2 separate regions of the Homo sapiens genome follow, and region 2 is reported to be linked to region 1. The links are microRNA targets in miRTarBase. Many come from high-throughput screens and were not tested one by one. Region 1 holds a microRNA gene; the other region holds the end of a gene's coding sequence.

Evidence for each region. The annotated mature microRNA hsa-miR-6809-3p reads CUUCUCUUCUCUCCUUCCCAG and lies in region 1 at 2,625-2,645, shown strand. An mRNA with a match to its seed (bases 2 to 7 or 8) in the 3' UTR can be bound and repressed. Matches are read on the target gene's strand: a 7mer-m8 pairs with bases 2 to 8, a 7mer-A1 pairs with bases 2 to 7 and ends in A, and an 8mer does both.
Region 2: miRTarBase lists DHX33 as a target of hsa-miR-6809-3p. Seed matches in the 3' UTR shown: 7mer-A1 at 2,986-2,992 and 7mer-A1 at 1,993-1,999.

Annotation. Positions count from the first base shown.
Region 1 is chr2:217,898,902-217,903,157 of GRCh38, reverse strand. MIR6809 (microRNA 6809) reads left to right here and starts at 2,530; the gene lies at 2,530-2,645. TNS1 (tensin 1) reads left to right here. Exons shown (of 33, transcript NM_001387777.1): 7 at 2,646-2,695.
Region 2 is chr17:5,440,887-5,444,886 of GRCh38, forward strand. It overlaps DHX33 (DEAH-box helicase 33), which reads right to left. Exons shown (of 12, transcript NM_020162.4): 12 at 31-3,627. The coding sequence ends at 3,319. Among named protein-coding and RNA genes, the nearest start is that of C1QBP, 3.7 kb to the left of the region's middle.

The DNA.
Region 1 (4,256 bases):
AGAATGAGCATGAAGATTGGAGGCCCAGGGATGACCGGATGCCTTGTGTTACTCCCACTGTGCTTGTAAAAAGCCTACGTGATGAGGCATGCTTCCAAAGGCACCATCTCTAGCCTCGTGTGAGGTCACCTGTGTTTCTGGAGCAGTAGGGTGTGTTTGCTGACATGCCGTGCCCCTGCCCCAGCCCATTTGTTGTTCTCTGAGTTCTGTCTGTCTGTGTGTACCGACACTCAGACGTGTCACCGTGCATGTCTGCTGTCCGCCAGCAAGGGTCACGTGCCCCCAAACTTTGCAGAAAACAGGAAGCCCCGTCAGTGAGAGGGCAGCCCAGTGATTCATCAGGGGATGACAGTCCCAGCTGTTCGTCCCCCATCCTCTGCACTGGGGTCACTGTCCAGGGTGGCTTCCTCCCCATGCCTCCCCTCCCCTCCCCGCCCGGTGGAGCAGAGCGGGCTTGGACTTTGCCTTATCACCTCTGGAGGCGGCCTGGCCAGACTCTGTTTGGGCCAAGTTTTTATTTATCTTCACTGGCTTTTTTTGGGGTGGGGAGGCTGAGGAATGTGGAGTGTTGTAATGTTTGGAAGAGGGCGGTGGGGAAAGGGGAGCCAGGTCTCCTGTCCTGCTTGTCCTGCTTACCCCTGCACCTTTGCAGGCTCCCGGCCCCCCTTGGTTCCCCAGTTCCCCCTGCCAAGCCCATATCAATATGGCCCATTGTCTTTCTCCAGCTCCCTGGGTCTGGTCCCATGCTCCTGGCCACACCTCACGTCTTGGCTACCGTTGTGGCTTCCAGTTGTTCAAAGCAGCTGTGGTGGCTTCCTCCAAAAGTGGCTACGGATCAGCAACAGATGAAACTCAAGGGGCTATTTATAGCAGGGTGGCCCTGGGGCCTGGAGCAGGGCCTAGGGCCTGGGGAGATTCAGGGACTCCTCATTAGGGACCAGTGAAATGGAGATGGGTGAACTGTTGGGTTTCTGTGTTCCTCTGAGGGGGCAGTTTTGGAACAGCCTGGTTTGGGTCTTGAAAACCAAACACAGTCACTCGTTGACTCCCAGCTCCACCCCTGTCTAATCCCCCCACCCCCAAGCTTGACTCATGCAAACTGGAGTCCTCAGGGCCAGAAGAGCTGTGAGACTTAGAAACTTCCCCCCAGTAGCCCCACTTGGCTCTTCCCTCCTTCACTGCTGAGGAGCTGCTCATTGGTCCGAGGCAGCTGGGACTCTGGGCAGAGCCTTCTTCCGGACAGCTGGATGGAGGGTCCCCCTCTTAGCAGAGCTGCTCTAACTTGGGGCTCAGCTGGGAGCTGGACCTCGGAACCCACCTATCCTGCCTCGTAGGCACTGCGGAGCCAGGAGAGGGGTGCAGGGGCTCCTCTTCTTGGAGACCCCGTGGTCAAGCCCCAGGTTGGAGTGTGAATCCTGCCTGGCCGTCAACTTCCCAGGGACTTGAGGGTAAGTTATTCTGTGCCTCAGTTTCTTCCTTTCTTGGCAGATTGTGGTCCTGTCTCTTTAAAGAAGAGGCTGCAACTTGGCGGTAGGAAAAGACCATTTTCTGAGAGGCACATGGGTGTTTGGAAGGTGTCAATGGGCTCAGGAGGTCTGAGAATCTAGAAACTGGCCTTCCCAATTCTGCATCCTGTGAGGTGACTGGAAGGATGGGTAGAGGCGATGCAGGGTGTTGGTTTTCTATAGAGGTGAATGTTTGGTTGTAACTACCCTTTTCATTTTTCTTGATACAAAAGTAACAACAAAAACAACAGCTGTCATCTGGTAAATACCAGGCATGATGCGAAGTGCCTTATATGCATAACTCCTTTGGATCCTCACTGCCAGCCTGAAGGTTGTCCCATTTTACATGTGACATTACAAGAGGCTCAGAGGGGTTAAGTAACTGGCAGGGCTGCCCAGCAGGATCCTGGAATCCAAACTCTGTGGTCTGTGGGCCTCTGACCCTGTGCTTTCACACCCGCCATGCCATCCTGCTGCCCTGGGATGGATTGGGCCCATTTGCTTAAGTTTGTACCACTCGACAGCTGTGAAAAGGGGAGTGGGTGAGATGGTTACTGTCTGCCACAGACAGTGGGGAGTGGGCCCTCAGGAGCATGGCTCACTGTCTTAGGCCTCGTCTTGGTTCCTGCATGCTCCACCTGCCTGTTCTGGTCTCTAAACTCAATTGAATGACTTGATGTTACAGCTTTCAAGCAGAGAAGTGTGGGGTGATGGTGGCAAGACAGAGGGGCGCCATTACTCTCATCGCTCCTTTTGTGGTGGCAGTCGTATTCTCCTCCTGGGGTTTCTCTTGTGTTGGCGAGTGTATCAAAGTGAAGTGTGTTTCCATTGATTCAGTAACTGTTGAGTGTGCCCTCAGTGTGGATGGCACCAGCCCAGTGGGGTGCACTCCTCAGCATTCGGGATTCTTCCTTTTGTCCCTCTGGGGCTTGCACACAGGCAGGCACACTCACGTGGAATCAGTGTTGATGGCTTTGGCTTCGGGCAGGCTGTGTTTTTGCAGGGGTTAGGGTGGCAGGGCCAGAATGTTGGCAAGGAAAGAAGAGGATCATGTTTGCCCCCGTGGACAGCTCTCTGGTGTGCTCCTCCTGCCATCCTGCCCACCCCTGCATAATGCTGCTTCTCTTCTCTCCTTCCCAGGGCTCCACCAGGGTCACCCCGAGTGTCCAGCCCCACCTCCAGCCCATCAGGTATGCCTGGCCCGTGGGGGCAGGGGGCGGGAGTGCAAGCAGGGGGGTCACTGTGGGTGTCCCTGTTAAGTCTTGCCTCTGGGTCCCCCGGACTGCAGCCATAAAGCCACGGGTGGGGAGTGTGGGCAAACGTGAAAGGCACAGGAGAGGATGCGTGCGGATGCCGTTGGCAACAGTTGTGTTTTGAGCTCTTAGCCAGCCCTTGAGCTGAGTCTTTATTTACCTGCATGAGCTCATCTAGTCCTTGCAACAACCCCGCAAGGTACGTATTTTATTCCCTTTGGTAGAGCAGCATTTCAGAGAGATGAGGTGACTTGTAAAGGTCACACAGCCACCAAGAGGCAGCACTTGGATTTGCGTTTAGGGCTGATGAGCATTGAGGCCTGTGCTGGATCTCTTCCTCTCTGCAGACAGGATTCTGACTGGGCAGAGTCATTTATGAAAGGGAAGTTCCCTATCTGGCTGGGCTGGCAGGGGCCGGGGGAAGGGGATGCACAAGGGACTTTGTGTCCTGGCGATCCAGAGAGTTTGTTTTGCCCTCTCTGCCTCACCTTCACCCACTGAGGCTCCTGAGATGATTGGGGATGCCAGCCCTGCAGTAGAGTTGAAGCCCCTGGAAGTTTCTGGCCCAGCTGCCAGCTGTCCACAGACTGGAGGTGGCTCCTTAGAGGATCCCCTCCTTCCCTTAGACCTGGGCAGGTGGATGCAGAGTGTGATGCTGAGGCTGTCCGGCTGGTGGCACTGTTCTGCATTTGCGTCCTTCCTGGGATCCAGCCTGTAGACAGGGGCGGGTCAGTGCCCCAGATGGGCCACGTCTGACTCATGGCCCTCACCAGCACGGCCCCTCTTGCTCCCCTTCCTGTGCTGAGGGAGAGGCTGAAATCACAGGAGCTTGTCTTGCGAGTTTTTCTGACATTCTAGTTTCTTCCTTGGAGCCAGAACAGAGAGGGGTTTTGGAGGATGGGGAGGAGGGGATGCTGCAAGTTAGCTGAGGCTCCCCGCCCTCACACCCACTTGCTTGCAGGTATGTGTGCGTGTGGCTTCTTGTCCCAGACTGGTCACCACCTACAAGAACTGTCCTTGGGTAGGCAGTTGGCTTGAGATAGAAACTTCTCCCCCACAGCTGCAATGAGAAGCTTTCCATAGGGACAAGAAGTAGCTGGGACTCAGAGTCAAACTCAAACCGGGCTCCTTACCTCTGGGTGCTGGTCCCCAGTCCCACTCAGGCCCCTGTCATCCCAACAGAGAGGTCCTGCCATGCCTCATCCTTGGCTGCCCCATCTCCACACCCCACCTGGACTGGGATTGAACCCTGGTGGAGGTCTGGATTCCTCATGGCTTCTCAGCATCTGGGGGCTTGTTCTGTCTAGTGCCAGAGAGCCCTCATCACTTTTAAATACCCCAGTGGTATTCCTTTCGCTGCCCTCCACTCTCCACTTTATCCCGCTGTGGTGAAAGGTTAGCAGAATGAAATGTCAGTGCTGCCTGCATTTGATAGAGGGGGAAGCGAGACACTAGGAGGTCAATGATTGGGGAAAAAGCTGGAGGGATGGGGGAGGTG
Region 2 (4,000 bases), not on the chromosome of region 1:
AGATGCAAGAAACAAGCCACACACATCATATACAAGATTCATTTTTAATGGATTTGATCGTCGGGTGCAAATTTGAGCATTATTTACAAGAGCTTTCTGTAGAGTTATTTCTGTTCAAATAAAACCAGACTCTCAAAATACAACATAAGCCTGAACCTACTTGATTTTTTTTTCTCCCTCTAGTTACCAAGGAATATCGTATCTCAGATGCATGGCCTACTATCACACTGGTCTTTAAAGAAAAAAAAAAATGCATGGCCACAGTTCCAGGCAGTTCCTGGTAGCTGGATTTAGTGGATTTATATATGACAGTACAGTACATCATCAGTTTCACCCACAGGGCAGAACTTGCCTCCATTCAGGCATCTCTTTACAACTGGCAGCAATGCAGCATTAAGGGTTTTTAGCCAGGACCTGCTGTTTGCAGTCCTGCCCCTTGTAGTGTTACTCTGGGTGTTGCACACTCCATGATTACTAGAAGACAAACACCTGAGGCATGCAATCTGCTTGGAGTGCATCTATTTACATGAAGCTGCTCACGGGAGCTGGTGATTCTTCCAGATATGGGTTTCGTAGGTTGGCAAAGAGTTATCACACCATCAGAGATTTTACCAATGGAAAGAGAGTAGCTGAAGATTATATTGCAATGTTATTGTGAAACATTTAACTTTCTTAAGTTTAAAGTGTACTATCTCCTGCAGCTCAATATAAACAACGATGTATTTCTTTGTAGCAGTATGTGGAGTCAGAATGGGTTTTCCAATCTGATTTAATCCCTGAGCAGCTATGTTAAAAGTTAACTTTTTAAAAAAGCCCAATAAAAAACTAAATACTGTATTAAAACTCTACCACAATGTTACAGGGATAAACTTATTTCTGTACAGAAACATTAAAGCTACTTAGAAGCTGTTTACATCCTTTGCCTCTCAGAAAAAAAATATACATTTCCGGAAACTGTTCAGGTACTTAAGCTGGACATAAATTACCCCAAGTTTTTTCTTTTTCTTTCTTTCTTTCTTTTTTTTTCTGAGACCGTCTCACACTGTCGGCCAGGCTGGAATGCAGTGGCGTGATCTTGGCTCACTACAAACTCTGCCTCCCAAGTTCAAGCAATTCTTGTGCCTCAGCCTCCCCGGTAGCTGGGATTACAGGCGTGTGCCACCATGCCCAGCTAAGTTTTCTATTTTTAGTAGAGACGGGGTTTTGCCATGTTGGCCAGGCTGGTCTTGAACTTCTCAAGCAATCCACCCACCTCAGCCTCCCATCCCAATGCTGGGATTACAGGCATGAGGTGATCCGCCCGCCTTGGCCTCCCAAAGTGCTGGGATTACAGGTGTGAGCCACTGCGCCCGGCCACCCCCCAATTTTTTTTTTTTTTTTTTTTTTTTTACCAGCACTATGAATGATTAAAAATACAATATTTTTCTTACTAAGTAGGACTAAACATTCTAATCCCCTACTGGAAAACAAAAAACAAAAAACAAAAACTGGAAAACTTTTCAGAAAGTCAGCAGTGGTAACAAGTCAGTAAGTGGAAGAACTGGTTCAAAGTTTAAGAATTCAGTAAGATAAGGTATATAGGAGCTGTCAGATCTTCTTTTGCCCACGTATAACCATTTCTGACAGACAGCCCTAAACACTAGCTGAGAGCTTGACTGCACAGGACCACGGCTAGTGTTGGAAATAAAGACTGAGCCGGACTTGACATACACAACTCCGGACAGATGGGACCCTGGAATGGGGCTGCTCCATCAGGCCACAGCTTCCAGAAAGAGAGCATCCATGATCTCTGAAGAGCCTCTTGGGCAGCTTGGCCCCTGGTTATAACTATGATTCATTCATTAAGAAATGACAAAACACCCCACAGATGTATTTGGACCAAGTAAGCACAATAAAAGAGCTAAATCACGGCTTCTTCTAGGGCAAAATATTATCTGGGGAAAGATTACTTGCTTCTGATAATTAAATAGCTAAGAGGAACCGTTAGTGCCTTTTCTCTGCTCAGAATATCAGAACAGGAACAGACTGTGGATATCCTCCAATTCCCTCTGACAATGAGGGTTAGAGAGAGGTGCCTAGCAGTTAGAAAGCAGCAAAGCCAGATTGTCCCAAGTCCCTACGAAGAAGGAAAAAATATCATAGAAAATTAATAAGATGCAAGAATAAGTGTTACAGCTCTAGCTCTTTTAGAATTTGTCCAGCAGGTCTTCTAGACTTCACTGAACTGCCCCCCACCCCCCCCGCCCACACACCAAAAAAGATACAAGAATGTAAGCCCAGATGTGGTGTGGTATCTGGCATAAGCCAATGTTCTCTGGGTTCTAGGTACCCCTCTCCCCTCCCCCACCCCCACCCCCTCTGACCAGGGGACTGCCCGAAAAGAAACAGCTGAAATGGTACACAGTCACTCCTCATGCCCGCATGTTCACTGGTGCCCAGTTAGAGAGAAAAATGGCAACTGTGTATGTGGGAGTCACCTACACACACAAAACACTGATAGGTCAGTTTCCCATGTCTACACGTGACAGGATTCAGAAGGTACAAATCAACCTTCACCCAGGAAGCTTACATGTCTCCTGAAAGCACTGACAGGGTCACGCACTGAGGACCAGGAGGCTCCTTTACTGGTCTCTGCTTGGAGACAGACACAGAGTGGTCCACCCTGAGACACAAGCGTTCAGTAGGGATCGCCATCCCAGGAGGTACGAGATAACAGCACCTCCCTCTGGAAACTTCTACAGAAGTCAGTTTTGTTTTCTATTTTAAAACTGCATTCAGAGAGACATTAAACAAGAACTAAGGGCAACATCCAAGCTCCGCAACCTCCTGTGGCCCTTCCAGAAAATCTCCCTCAGTCACAAGAACTTGGGATATTGCTGTACTTCACATCATATGGCAAGCAGTAACATTCAGCCTAACGGCTCCCAACTCACTGTACGTGTGTCGTGCGTGCTCCAGGCATAGTTCTGGGTACTTTCCATTCCTTTTCTCTAAACTTTATGAACCCAATTTTATAAGGATTATTATTATTACTCCCATTTGGCAGATGAGAAAACTGAGGCTCAGGTGTTAAATTAAGTCAAAGTCACCCAGTAAGAACCAAAAGCATAATTTTGAGGTTTCCAGGTACAAATGATATGTCCATGTCTATATGGTTCAGTCCCAGGAGTTGAGCAAAGATGCTTTCACGCTCCTGGAAGTCAGGCACCTTCAGCTGATTCCAAGGCTTCTCTAAGCGCCAACCTGGAAGCCTGCTGTAAGGACAACTGTAGTCCAAGCTCCCAGGGACCAGTGATTCTGGCGGCATCCTGGGGCGGCTCAGTTTCTGGCGGTTCTCAGCTTCCTCCTAAAGTACTCAGGGGCAGCCTCGTACAGCCACTGTGCATCTATGACGCAGAGGTCCCGCATGTAGCACTTGTTGGTGTAGAGCAGCTCAGTGTACACGACGCAGGCCGGCTTGCAGTGGAAGAGGACAGACGACGGGTGGATGGCCACTGGCTGGTGGGTGTCCGTGGTGGCATAGGTGCCATCTGGCTGAAGCTCGGCGGTGCTCATGAAGAGGCTGTGAGCCAGGCAGCGGCGGACACTCTCCACGTCTCCTCGGGATGATGCGATTGGCATTGACATCTGTTTCGGGAGAAAGCGAGGAATGGAGCCGACCCCACACGTAAACACTGGTCAGCACTACACAGCGTGTTGGGGCAACTGGACCCACTGGGGCAAAAGCAGCCCACATTGTGAGCCTAACGATGTGGATTCTGACATTCGGAGGTGGTCACCAAGGATCAGCAAGGTCAGGGGAAGAAGGCCCAGCTGGAGGAGCACGGACCAGAAACAGGGAAACTACCGCCTGTGAAGGTAGGGCTGGGAGGGAGGTGCTCACATTAGCCACCAGACCACAGGCAGGTTGGGTGACCCACCCCTCACCTAAATTCCATCAGGACGGCCCGGAAAGGAAAGGCCCTTCCCTCTCGCTTTGACCATCTCACCATCTCCTCAC